Linked DNA regions of Homo sapiens. The protein of the gene in region 1 purifies or fractionates together with the protein of each later gene. This does not show direct contact. Each region holds a gene or a part of one and is shown on either strand. Other genes may lie near its edges. The genes, in order: PCTP and RAD23B.

Region 1 (4,480 bases):
TTCTTATGCTTGTCTCCATTAGTCTATTGCCATATAGTAATAAAGCTTTATCAAATCAAACCTTTATAATGGATTCCTTGAAGATACTTGAAAATACTTCATAGCCAATAGTTTTTACACAATTGGTTTTTCAAGCAATGAATTTCCATTTAAATAAAATATGGATTTACAATACATAGAAAATTTACAAGGAGTTATAAAACAGTGGGAAAGTATGTCTAGCCTAAACTTTTGTGCATTTAGTCTAGGAAAATTTCACATCCCTCTTTCCACACCTATAAAGCCAAACAGAACCAGGACTGACTTGAGGAAAGCAATTATTTATCTCTGCTGTGTCTAACTAAGCAAGCTGCCAAATGTGATCATTTGCCTGATTGGAAAATCACATAAATTAAGACTTTGCCATCAACTTTCTTTCAAGTAAGGAAAGAAAAGCATTTCAATATAGTAATGCAAAACAAGTGGAAATTGTTATTGAACATTTACTTGGACGGGCACTGTGGAAAATTATTCCTTGTCCAACCACCTCCTCAGCTGTAACTGGTAGCACAATTCTTGACCCATTTTACAGATTAGGAAACATGAGTTTCCAGAGTTTATTGGCACTCACGTGGCTGTTACATCGTTTTGATGTTCAAACGACCTACTTTATTCAAAGTCAGGTAGTACAGTCTGCTGGTGGGAAATACAGTATTACTCAAGGGACTTCAAAGGAACAAGAAGATGTTTGAGTTGCACAGTGAGCTAAATTATGCAAGTTGCAGAAATCCTAGGTGGATAGTACGACACCTTTCAGATCAGTTTCTACCCTCAAGGGTGGCAACAACCTTGTAGATCCATTATGGATTAGGTTTCTAAACTGTTTTGGTGTTATGAACCCCTAGAGTCTTCTGGGGAATCCAATGGACCTCGTCTCAGAATAATGTTTTACAATGTATAGCAGAAAGAAGAGAAATTATATTGAAATACACTTCTGGCATTTGACCCCTTAGGATTTTTCCAGCATTTCTACTCTGCCCACCTCTCCTCTCATGTCTACCAAAGAGACTTTCTCTACTTTATTCAGAAAGGTAAATGAGAGACACTCAAACAGGTCTGTAGGTTATGGGAGTAGCAGGGAGTATGGGATAGGCTACTGAGGAGCTGTTTTTGAGGTGACATCACTGTCTCCCTTCCTTTTTCCCTTCCCTCTGGAAGCCTCCTTACTTCTCCAGCTCTTCCTTCCTTCCCCACATCAAGTCCAATTTTTCTCCTTTTACTTCTTGTCTATCCTCCTCACTCCTTGCTCAGCCCCGCCCGCTTTTCTAGGCCCGCCCCTCCAGGGCCCCACCCTCAGGCCGCTCCTCCAGTCTAGGCCCCGCCTTCTCCTCAGTTTCCTGCCAATGACGCTGGGGCAGCCGGGGCAGCCGGGGCAGCCCGGTCACCCCGCCCCCAGGCCCACACTAAGGGTGTCCGCGGCCTGCCCTCCAGGCGGAGGAGCCCGGACTGCGGAAGGATGGAGCTGGCCGCCGGAAGCTTCTCGGAGGAGCAGTTCTGGGAGGCCTGCGCCGAGCTCCAGCAGCCCGCTCTGGCCGGGGCCGACTGGCAGCTCCTAGTGGAGACCTCGGGCATCAGCATCTACCGGCTGCTGGACAAGGTAGCGGCCAACCCGCTGGAGGACCGCGGGGCCTAGAATGCGCCGGGGTCGACCTCCCCGCAGGGAGTGCGGGGCGGCAGTCGCGGAAGGGACAGGGGCGCGTCTTCTCCGGCTCAGGAAGGAGCTCCGCCCGGACCCTGTCTCAAGCTCTGGAGCTAGCGCAGGGGCGGTGCCTCCAAGTGACTGCCGTGCAGATCCAGGGGAGTTGGAAGGTCACAGGAGTTCAGCCTCAGGTCAGGCCCGACGGGGCATGTAGTTAGAAGTTAATGACAGTTGAAACGTGGGTCAGCTGGTTCCTAGGCCCGTGCACACGTCTGCAAGGGACGTTGATCCTCACTCTCCAATGCGTGTCAGTGGCATATGGGGGCTGGGGTGGGGGAGGGGCGGTATCTTAGGGCTTGGATATAGGAGGAAAAGAAACAGAACTTTTCAAGGACTGGATGTGCAGGGTGGTGTCAGGGGTTGCCGAGAAGGGCCCTACTGTTTTAGTGACTCGTTTCTTTTGGTTGTTGCCCCTTCCTTCCAAGTTGCTCTTAATAAGTTGAGTCCGAATCTTCAGGCAGGAGTAAAGATGTAGGAGGAATGGGATTGGTTGTTGAAGTCTTTGGAATCAGGTAGCCATCCAGGTGGAAGGCATTGCCCCTGAGGCCTGTCATCCAAGGCTTGTCATCAGTTGCTTTGTGTAATAGTCGCAGCATGGCAAGTAGGTTAAAAGTCGCCTGCAGGTAATGTGGGTGAAACTGAAGTTTCCTAATACAGGACCAGGATATTATAGTGTTAGAGTTAGGAGGATACCTCATGCTCACCTGGTTAAACCCCAGGTTTCATAGGTGAAAGCAACAGGCCTCAAGGGTGAAGTCACTCCTGAAATGGCCCAGATAAGTGAATAGCAGAGGTGGGATTGGAGGGTTCATGATCTTGTGAATGTCAAACATGTGGTTGCCTTTTTAGGCACTTGCATTTTTGTTTACATCAAATATAGTGTTTTTATATTTTAAAACAGAAAACAAACGTTTGCAATATTTAGAAGTTGCTCACCTGTTAAACAGGAATGAAAACTCTGCCTGTCTCATTGCAGGAATGAAAACTCTGCCTGTCTCATTGCAGGGTTGTTAGGGGGTTCAAATCCAATCTGTCAGATATGTGTGAAAATTTGATAGCTGTAAATAACTCTACAATGCACAGGACAGTGACCCCATACCTCTCCCGGGGAAGAATTATCCAGTCCCAAATTGTAATATTGCCAAGGTCAAGAAACCCTACTCTAAATAAATGGAGAATATAGGTATTATGAAGAAATTTCCTGTCTAAATACATATATATTTGCTTTGGATGCAGTCCGTCCCTCTCCAGTTAGTGGGACTGTAAAACATGCTATTTGGAATACTTACAAATTAGTAGGGCTGGCCTTTACATAATCCAGAACACAGCAGATACTGCAAGTGGCTAAGCTGCCATATTTACTTTTTTTCTGTATACAGATGTTATATCTTGATGGATTACTCACTCAACAAACTCTGAATGCTTGCTGTGTACTAGGACCATTGGGTTTAACAAGATGATCAAGAAGTTCACAGTCTAGAACAGGCAGAATTAATTTCTTAGGGTAACTTTAAAAGGTACCTTAGTTTGAAAATTGATACATTTTCAGAAAAAGTCTTTCTTTTAATTTTTATTTTTTAGAGATGAGGCCTTGCTATGTTGCCCAGGTTGGTCTTGGAACTCCTGGGCTCAAGCAGTCCTCCTGCCTCAGCCCTCAGCCTCCCAAAGTGCTGGGATTACAGGGATGAGCCACCACACCCAGCCAGGCAAAATTCTTTTATCTTCTCTGCTATTCCATTTTTCTTACCAGCCACATCAAGGCTTTGGCCAAGTTTTGTTGATTCAACTGCTCAGACGTGTCTAGCATCTGGCTTATTTCCTCCCATTTTCTTTCCTTTATCTTTGCTACTTTGGGTACTCAGCACCCCTCACTTAGAATTGCAGTGACCTCTTAACTAGTTTTTGGCCTACCAGCTCTCTGCTCCTGTCTATCCTACACCTTCCAGTGCAGTCAAACATCTGAGAAGCAGTGATCTTATCACTACCTTTTCAGTGGCCTATTGATTGCAGAAATAATAATAATCATCACTGTAATAGCTAACATTTATTGCATGATTTCTTATAATTCAGGTGCTAAGTGTTTTGGAAGTATTGATTTACTCAATCCTTGCATCAACCCTATGATAAGGTACTATGATGATCACCTTTTTACCTATATATAAATGAATGCATAGAAAGGTTAAGTTGGTTTCTCAAGATTCCAGCTAGGATCCAAACCCAGCTGTCTGCCTCCAGTCCTGTGTCTTCAACATGCTCCTGCATTGCCTCTCCAAACAGAAGGCAAATGCTGCCTGGTGGGTACACTGAACTAATTTGGTCTCAACTCACATTTCCATCATTCTCTCCCATTACCATAGACCTGACATCTTCTCCTCTAGCGAGCCCAGACCGCTGTGCCATCTTCCCTGTATACAGACGAGGCAGTTGAGGTCCAGGGAAAGTCAGTGGCATATACAAAGCACACGGCTAAGAAGTGGTGAATAAAACTGGGATTTAGATCCAAGTCCATCTGCCCATGAAGCCCCTACTCTTTCCCCAAGCCACACACACTCTTTTTCTAATAAAGCTTCCAGCATGTGGGATGGACCGTCTTAGGAGGGTGAGTCCTCATTATTGGAAGTACAGTACTGTGTTGGAGAAAAAACTCAAACTGTTTTTTTCATTATCTCAACATCACCAACAACACAGAAGCACAGAAGACTCCTGTGACCAAATGTCTGAGGATTTCTCTCCAAACACCAA
Region 2 (2,530 bases), on another chromosome or scaffold:
TTTTTGCCCAAATTTTAAGGGTTATTTCCAAATATAATCTGACACAGCAGTCTTTAACCTTTTTGGCACCAGGGACCAGTTACGTAGAAGACCTTTTTTTCTACCAACATAGGTGGGGTGGGCGCAGTGATTTTGGGATGAAACTGTTCCACCTCCGATCATCAGGCGTTAGTTAGGTTAGGAAGTGGGGTGGGGCGGTGGTTTTGGGATGAAACTGTTTCATCTCACATCATCAGGCATTTGTTAGGCTATCATACGGAGCACAGACCCTAGATCCCTCTCATGCACAGTTCACAGTAGGGTTCATGCTCATATGAGAATCTAATGCCGCCACTGATACAACAGGAGACGGAGCTCAGGTGGTAATTCGAGTGATGGGGAGTGGCTGTAAATACAGATGAAGCTTCACTTGTTCGCCCACTGCTCACCTCCTCCCGTGCGGCCCAGTTCCTTGCTCACCCACTGCTCACCTGCTCCTGGGCAGCCCAGTTCCTAACAGGCCAATGGCTGGTGCCAGTTCACGGTCTTGGGGTTTGGGACCTGTGATCTAACTCAAGGTGATTGAGACAATTGAGGAGGGTGACATTTGGCTGAGTTTTTAAAGGCTTTTAAAAGGAGTGAGTATTGTCACAAGTGATTTTTAATATAATAGACTAGGAAAATGAAATTAAGTAGCTGGTATTACCATTTAAAATGCTGTAACTGTTAAGCAGATAAAAATAGAACATTATCTTCAAAATGTACCATGTATTACTAATAATTGGTCACCTGTTTTTCTAGTATGGAGTGTTGAATAAAGCAAGGAGATTGAGAGTGATGTTTGATCCAAATGAAAGACATGAGTTGACATTAATAAATAAAACATAATTTGCTTTTAATTTAGAAATAGGTGAGGTGGTTAAACTATACTGCAGGTACTCTCATCCTTATCTTCACTCTTAATATACTAAAAGCCATTTGATTTACATATTTCTGTAGAGTCATTTATTTTTAAACCATAGCAGTTAGCAGCTAATTTTTAATTAGGCCAAAGAGTATTTGCATAGTATCTATTAAGCTTTAACTAGAAACAAAGACTTTTTTAGGTGATTAGTAAAGGAAAGGGTCTAGATTCCATCTAATCCCTTGGGTTGGGCAGTAAATCCATATTGATAGAGATGAATTCATGTAAAATTCTCAAGAGCTTTTTTGGGTTGCAGTATGTTTTTGAGTAATGATTTATCTTTAGTGCTATGCTGGAATCTATAATATGTAAATAAAATTAAATGTGCCATAATTGGTGTGTTGGATTTATATTTTTTTCCTTTTTCTTCCAGTTAAAGGCATTAGGATTTCCTGAAGGACTTGTGATACAAGCGTATTTTGCTTGTGAGAAGAATGAGAATTTGGCTGCCAATTTTCTTCTACAGCAGAACTTTGATGAAGATTGAAAGGGACTTTTTTATATCTCACACTTCACACCAGTGCATTACACTAACTTGTTCACTGGATTGTCTGGGATGACTTGGGCTCATATCCACAATACTTGGTATAAGGTAGTAGATTGTTGGGGGTGGGGAGGGAGGGATCTAGGATACAGGGCAGGGATAAATACAGTGCATGTCTGCTTCAATTAGCAGATGCCGCAACTCCACACAGTGTGTAAAATATATACAACCAAAAATCAGCTTTTGCAGGTCTTTATTTCTTCTGTAAAACAGTAGGTAACTTTTCCTAGGTTTCACTCTTTTTAGTGTACTAGATCCAGAAACTTAGTGTAATGCCCTGCTTTATATTTCTTTGACTTAACATTGGTTTCAGAAAGAATCTTAGCTACCTAGAATTTACAGTCTCTGTTTCATGGCAACACTGGATAATGGCTTTGTGAAATTTAAAAAATTTTTGTAGCGACTGTAAACAGAAATGCCAAATTGATGGTTAATTGTTGCTGCTTCAAAAATAAGTATAAAATTAATATGTAAGGAAGCCCATTCTTTCATGTTAAATACTTGGGGTGGGAGGGGAGAAAGGGAACCTTTTCTTAAAATGAAAATAATTACTGCTATTTTAAAATTTCTTGATCATTGAATGTGAGACCCTTCTAACATGATTTGAGAAGCTGTACAAGTATAGGCAGAGTTATTTTCCTGTTTACATTTTTTTTTTGTTTTGGGGAAAAAATTGGTAGGTGTCTAATTACTGTTTACTTCATTGTTATATTGCAGTAAAAGTTTTAAAACAACCATTGCATGTTTGCTTTTGATGTATCCCTTTGTGAAATTAGCACTTTTGGGGCCAATGGAGAAATGCAGCATTCACTCTCCCTGTCTTTTCCCCTTCCCTCAGCAGAAACGTGTTTATCAGCAAGTCGTGAGTCAAACTGCTGCCTTTTAAAAAACCCACAAAATGCTGATTCAGTTCAAAATTAATGCAAATGTTTCAAAACTGGGTTTCTGATATTTGTAAATGTGTTTCTTTATTAGATAAGAGTGTATTACCATTAAAGTCATTAGTATAATATTGCTTTCAAAAAGAAATGGTAGACAAAACT

The links.
Region 2: the proteins of PCTP (region 1) and RAD23B purify together in Homo sapiens (affinity purification with mass spectrometry; one large-scale study listed by BioGRID and IntAct). This does not show direct contact.

The regions. Positions count from the first base shown.
Region 1 is NC_000017.11:55,749,609-55,754,088, forward strand, and holds the start of PCTP (phosphatidylcholine transfer protein), read left to right. Parts: upstream 1-1,442; 5' UTR 1,443-1,495; coding exon 1,496-1,636; exon of another isoform or gene 1,637-4,480. UniProt on the Homo sapiens protein: Catalyzes the transfer of phosphatidylcholine between membranes. Binds a single lipid molecule.
Region 2 is NC_000009.12:107,328,227-107,330,756, forward strand, and holds part of RAD23B (UV excision repair protein RAD23 homolog B), read left to right. Parts: intron 1-1,316; coding exon 1,317-1,430; 3' UTR 1,431-2,530. UniProt on the Homo sapiens protein: Multiubiquitin chain receptor involved in modulation of proteasomal degradation. Binds to polyubiquitin chains.